2 linked regions of the Homo sapiens genome follow. The protein of the gene in region 1 binds, or shares a complex with, the protein of each later gene. Each region holds a gene or a part of one and is shown on either strand. Other genes may lie near its edges.

What was found. The genes of interacting proteins can lie anywhere in the genome.
Region 2: EFTUD2 (region 1) and CWC27 share a complex: the UniProt entries of both Homo sapiens proteins name them as parts of the minor spliceosome.

What each region holds. Positions count from the first base shown.
Region 1 is NC_000017.11:44,889,446-44,892,945, forward strand, and holds part of EFTUD2 (116 kDa U5 small nuclear ribonucleoprotein component), read right to left. Parts: intron 1-3,500. UniProt on the Homo sapiens protein: Required for pre-mRNA splicing as component of the spliceosome, including pre-catalytic, catalytic and post-catalytic spliceosomal complexes. Component of the U5 snRNP and the U4/U6-U5 tri-snRNP complex, a building block of the spliceosome.
Region 2 is NC_000005.10:64,799,930-64,803,429, forward strand, and holds part of CWC27 (spliceosome-associated protein CWC27 homolog), read left to right. Parts: intron 1-318; coding exon 319-398; intron 399-1,372; coding exon 1,373-1,403; intron 1,404-3,500. UniProt on the Homo sapiens protein: As part of the spliceosome, plays a role in pre-mRNA splicing. Probable inactive PPIase with no peptidyl-prolyl cis-trans isomerase activity. As a component of the minor spliceosome, involved in the splicing of U12-type introns in pre-mRNAs.

The DNA.
Region 1 (3,500 bases):
TGCTGATGGGGATGATCCTGTAGACAGGGAAAACTGATGGCACAGGAGAGAGAGGGCAGAATTGCCAAAGGTCTTGAGTGGTGAGAAGGGATGGGATTAGTTTCTAGTAGACAGAAACATGAACAAATCATTCGTAAGAACGGAAGGGAAGGCATCGTATATGAGTACAGATGTAGGCAGGTGGGTAGAGGGACTGCTGGGTGCTTGTTTTCCTTCACACAAATTCCAGCATGCCAACCTCTTCCTTAAGAACACAAAACCCTCCAGTGGTGAGACCGGCTACCTCCTACCATCTTACACTCTACTTCTACTAAAGTGGCCTAAGATTACATTAGCTCTTTTGGCAGCCACATATATCCTACTGGTGGTGGCTCCAAATAGCTATCAAGCCAGTTTTCTCCTGCCCCATACTGCTGAATATATTATGAATCTAACTGCAGGATTTTATATAATAATTTCTGACTGCCTGTAATTATCTCTATCCGAGTCTACAGTAGCTCAACAAGTCTAAACAAATAAAACTAAACAAATATTCTTTTATCATTGCTTTTTCTAATTTTTAATTTTTTTATTTTTTTGAGATGGAGTTTCACTCTTGTTTGCCGGGGCTGGAGTGCAGTGGCGCGATCTCAGCTCACTGCAACCTCTGCCTCCTGGGTTCAAGAGATTCTCCTGCCTTAGCCTCTGGGCATGCCACCCAGGCGCATGCCACCACGCCCAGCTAATTTTTGTATTTTTGTATTTTTGTATTTTTAATAGAGACAGGGTTTCATCACGTTGGCCAGACTGGTCTCGAACTCTTGACCTCAGGTCATCTGCCCACCTCAGCCTCCCAAAGTGCTGGGATTACAGGCATGAGCCAACGCACCCAGCCTTAGAAGGGACATCTTTCTTTCCTGTCCCCATTACCAAAATCTATGCATCTCTACTGTTATATACCTCAATATAATTAAAAAAAAAAATCTGTCCAGGTGCGGTGGCTCACACCTGTAATCCCAGCACTTTGAGAGGCTGAGGCGGGCAGATCACCTAAGGTTGGGAGTTCGAGACCAGTCTGACCAACACGGAGAAACCCCATCTCTACTAAAAATACAAAACTAGCCGGGCGTGGACGCACATGCCTGTAATCCCAGCTACTCGGGAGGCTGAGGCAGGAGAATCGCTTGAACCCGGGAGGTGGAGGTTACAGTGAGCCGAGATCATGCCATTGCACTCCAGCCTGGGCAACAAGAGCGAAACTCCATCTCAAAAAATAACAATAATAATAAATCTATGCATCTTGTGGACTAGGAGGCTATAACCCTCATTCTGCTGGAAAGAGGGTAGACCAGTACAGCCATTTTAAAGGGCAATCTGACAGTACTTAGTATAAACATATTAACTAAGTATAAATACAATAAGCATATGTAGATAGAGATATAATATCCTACAACCAGCAACTCTGCTCTTGGGAATATAACCCAAAGAAATTTTTCCACATTGCATAAAGGGACACATATGAGAATGTACACTGGATTATTAATTACGGCGAGGGAAGGCTGGTGACAGGTAACCTTGGTGTCTATCACTAAGAGAGGAATGTCACCAGGGCAAACCGAGTAGCAGTCAGTTCCCACAGACTAGATGTACACACAGCAACAGGGAGAAACCCTAAAATGCACCACTCATCATGATGCTGAGTGGGAAAAGAAACAGAACAATGCAGACAATGATACCATTTACTTAAAATACACACACACTATGCAACTCATAGAAAAAGAAACATACATAAATTACAAAGAACTGTGGTGGCAGGTATGGGAATGAGATAAATGGGAATTAACAAATTAATTAAATAACAGCAGAGCTCTCACAGCAATGACACTGAGGAGTAAGAACTAAAGAGTATGAGTGACTCAACTGTTTGTACTGAGGTAAAAACCTTCATAGGGTCTCACTCTGTTGCCCACGCTAGAGTGCAGTGGCATGACCATAGCTCACCACTACCTCAAATTCCTGGGCTCAAGCCATCCTCCTGCCTCAGTCTCCTGAGTAGCTGTGACTACTGGCATGTACCACCATGCTTGGCTAATTTTTAAATTTTTTGTAGAAATGGGGTCTCACTACATTGCCCAAGCTGGTCTCAAACTCCTCGGTTCAAGTGATCCTCCTGCCTTGACCTTCCAAAGTGCTGGGGTTATAGGTGTGAGCCACTAAGTGTTTAGCCCATTATTCTTTATTTTAAAAATTTTTTTGTTAATAGCTTTATAGAGATATAATTCACATTCCATACAATCTATCCATTTTAAGTGCATAATAGTTTTTAGTATATTCACAGAATTGTGCAACCATCACCACGATCAATTTTAGATCATTTTCATCACCCTAAAAAGAAACTCTGTTACTTACCAATTCCACCTGCCCTCACTCCCAACAAAAAAATCCTGCCTCAGCCTCCCGAGTAGCTGGGATTACAGGCGCGCACCAGCACACCCAACTAATTTTTTGTATTTTTAGTAGAGACGGTTTCACACCACGTTGGCCAGGCTGGTCTCGAACTCCTGACCTCAAGTGATCTGCCCGCTTCAGCCTCCCAAAGTGCTGGGATTACATGTGTGAGCCACCACGCCTGGCCTATTACTGGGTTTTTAGTCCCAAATTCATGTATGTTGGGATCACTTTGAATTTAGATTCTGTTATCCAATACATTAGTTTTATGTCATGTGCAAATTAGATAAACCTCTGTTCTCTATCTTTACCCAAGTCACTAATAGGCTGAATGACGGGGCACAATGGTTCCCCTATGTAATCTCAGCATTTTGGGAGGCCAAGGCAGGCAGATTGCTTGAGCCCAGGAGTTCAACACCAGCCTGAGCAACATAGTGAAACCTTGTCTCTATTTAAATATATTTTAAGTTGAAAAGGACAAGACCAAACACAGATGCCTAGGACATGTCACAAGAGCTCTGCTGGTGACCCATTAATCAAAAATCTTTGTGTCCCACTGTTCAACCAGCTGTGACCTCCTCTAATTGTATTATGATGCAGCCCATGTTCTTTTCACTAGGACATCATGAGTTACAGAGGTTAACTGGGGAAGAAGAGTGAATGGAATGAGAACAAAGGAAACCTTTCTATCAACATGGTTTGAATGAGAATGTATTCATGAATTACCTATATAATTAAAGAAAAACACACTGTAAAACCTTTTTTTTTTTTTTTTTTTTTTTTGAGATGGAGTCTCGCTGTGTCACCCAGGCTGGAGAGCAGTGGCTCGATCTCAGCTCACTGCAACGTCTACCTCCCGGGTTCAAGCAATTCTCCTGCCTCAGCCTCCTGAGTAGCTGGGATTACAGGCATGTACCACCACACCCAGCTAATTTTTGTATTTTAGTAGAGACGGGGTTTCACCATGTTGGCCAGGCTGGTCTCAAACTCCTGGGCTCAAGCGCCTCAGCCTCCCAAAATGCTGGAATTACAGGCGTAAGCCACCACACCTGACTGTAAACCTTATTTTCAAA
Region 2 (3,500 bases), on another chromosome or scaffold:
TAGGGGTCATAAAAATTAACTAGTTTCATAGTATGCAAATTATTATGAGAATTTAGTGCTTCAAGTTGGTAATTCAACAGACTTCTTTTAAATGATATATCATTTTTTGAAAGAAAAGGTGTTTCTAAAATACTATTTTCAGTCAATAGAAGAGTAAGATTCTTACTTATAAAACTTTAGTTTGTATTAAACTTTTCAGGAATACATCTTTTGCTAACCATATTATATCATTGCTAGGTTTTATGTAAATTTGTTAACTTGTTATTTAGGAATACTGTTTATTTCCCCCCTCATGATTATATTGTACATTCTTTGCAGAGCATGAAGGGCAAAAGCAAAAGTAGTCATGACTTGCTTAAGGATGATCCACATCTCAGTTCTGTTCCAGTTGTAGAAAGGTTAGTCCATTGTTGGTATGATCCTAAGTTCTTAATTTTCTGGCTCAGATAATTTTCTTGCTTCTTCTGTGAGTAAACAGTCAGTCCTCATAAGTCAAAAATTTTTAAGCCAGCCAAAAAAATAAAGCATTTTGATAACAGAGATAGAGAACTTCAAGCTTGATAGAGAGAAACAAACGCTCTAGTCACTTTCGCACTTGCTCTCTACCTCTGTTGAATGAATTACATTTAAAATTGTTTTACCATTACATGTTAGGACTAGAAACTGTTTGCTTTAACAGTGTAATGCTTAATTCAAGGTTGTTTTGCTACCTTTTCCTTGAAGCATTTTTGCCTTAATTGTATCATGAATGAACAAATTACAGTTAAAGGTTTTTGTGAAGAAGTTACCAGTTTGGGGGCCAGTCCACTGACTATAAATTCTCACATACTTTGAGGAGTTAACAGAAAGTTGTCTTGCTACCTTTGTTGCTTCTCTTTGAGAAGGGAAAACGTCTTGGTGTTAGATGTAATAGCACAAGATAAACTGGGCCAGTATCTCAAGGGGCACTACAATGCTGTTGTACTCAGTTTAGCTCATTTTCGAAACTCCTGTTTTAAGACAATCTTTTCTTAATACCCTTCTATTTGAAGGATTTGGGGGTTTTTTTAGTCAGAATATTTCAAGCCAATAAAAGAAATTGTTTTTTGCAGACCATTGATCATAAAAATAACACTGTCGGTTGTTGTTTGCTTTTTTCCTTTCAAATTCTAGTGAACGCATATATTTGCTAATGAATCATACTTATTCCACTTATAAAAAATGACTCTAAAGAATGTTTCCATCTGTTCTATAATGCCTTTCTTAAATTCCTATGTTGAAATACATTTTTGGAATGTTATTCCCAGCAAACTATTCTAGATTTTTGGGTTACAAAATAATTGTGTTAGTTTTACCTTGAAACTAAAATTTGTTTTGCTTATTTTTTTTATAGTGAAAAAGGTGATGCACCAGATTTAGTTGATGTAAGTATTTATTTTGGTATTAATATAGTTTGAACAATTCATAGAAAGTACAAAATTTTTACAAAAACTTAATTTTGTTCTTAAAAAGTAACGTATATTACTTTTATAGTTATATATGTCAAATTTTGGAAAAATATGAAAAACAGAAATTATTTAGGTGTTAGACTATTTCCTTACTCTAGGGGTGTGCGTGTGTGTGTGTGTATATCTCTCTACAACATTAGAATCTTATATATGAATTTCTAGTCTGTTTTTTTCTCCCCCTCACATAACATTACGTTAATACTCAAACTTCAGATGTTATAAATTTATTGTATTAAAAGTTTAAATATTGGTGTGTGGGCATCCTACATGATATATGGGAAATGCTTGGATCAGTAATTTATAGTAGTGTCTCCTTTTTATATACACATTTCAAAAGATTCTCATTCAAGAGTGTAGTGATCTTTATTAGTTGTAGTGGCTAACAAAGCTAACAAAACAGAAGGAAGATTTTCCTTTAATACATAAGAGTCAAGTTTTTCAAATTATACATATGCCACTTTTTATATAAAAACCCATTAATCTGTGCATTGTATAATTTACTAGGAAGTACATAACTTTCCATGCATGAACACAGATTTATCTATTATCACAGTCAAAAGAGAAGGCTCTCTATGGCTATCAGTAGTAGATAGAGAGAGGATGAATATCTGACCTTGTCAAGAAAAGCTTCCTGGAAGAGATGATGCTATTTATGTCTTATATGAGAGTTAGGAGTTAGCTAAGTCAGAAAAGAAAGTGATGAAGGGGGTGAGGTCCCTCTAGCTCAGAGAATAGCATATGCTAAAGCATGGAAATAAGGAGAGATCATACCTTATTTAGGAAATACAAACGGAAATTTAAAGTTTCAAGGAGTCTGTCTTGTGAAGAGCAAGGAAGAAGAGTATTGAAGGTAAGGGGAACTGCATATACAAAATGGTCCGAAGCAGGAGAGTTTGGTGTGTTCTAAGAGCTGCAAGCAGGCCAGCGTGAACAGGGTGTGGTGACAGGCCAGAGCTTCATTACAGAGCTTCATAGGCCATGGTGAGGGGTTTGAGTTTTTTCCTAAAAGGAAGTGAGGAACAGTTGAAAGGTGTTTGTTAAAAAGAAGGATGCTATGATCAATTTTGCATTTCAGGAAGATCACTATTGGCGATATTATAGAGGACAAATTAGAGGAAACAGACTGATACTGGGAAGCTATTGTAGGAGGAGAGCTTGATATAAGACCACAGCTGTGAGATGGGAAAGAGGTAGATTTGAAAGAGGTCTAGGAGGTGACTGATTCTACACTATGAGGTGAGGGAGGAGTAGTCCAAGACAACCACAAGGTTTCTGGTTTGAGCAACTTGTTAGATGGGTGCAAAAGAAAGCATAGGGTTGAGGTGGAGAAAAGGATGAAAAATAATGAGCTTAATTTTATACATTTCAAGATTGAGGTAATTTGGAGACATCTGTGTAACATAATATGGGTCTAGAAGTTAGGATCAATGTATAGGATAGAAAGTAAAAGTATAGATTTGCTCTTAATATCATGGGTGAGTGACTAAAACTGTGAATCCTTTCCCAGGAAAATGTACTACATTCACAACCAAAATTATATGAATTTGCAGGGAATTTTTTTTAGATCTCCTGAGGCCTGAGCATGGAAGGCCTAGGTTGGTGGTTGTCACCTTTTAGTGCTTAAGAATTACTTAAACATCTTGTTGAAAACATTCGTAATTCCTACCCCAGAGATTTTGGTTCAATAAGTCTGCAATGAGGGCTAGAATTTTAGGTGTTAATAAACAACTATGTAATACCATCTAAGGACCAGACTTTGAGGACCAGTGCTTTAGGGGTCCACAAGTCTCAAATTAAGAATCCTGCTTCACTACGACTCACCAGATCAAAGAAAGAATCACAAAAGAAAAATGATCCACTTGGGGTTATTTCTTCCTTCTTCTCTCCCCTCTTTCTTCCCTTTGTTCCTCCATCTGTCAATGCTGGGCACTATTCTAGGAGTTGAAGATACAGCAGTAAGCAAAACAGGCCAGAATTTTAGCTCTCATGGAGTGTTTGCTGTAATTGGATGAC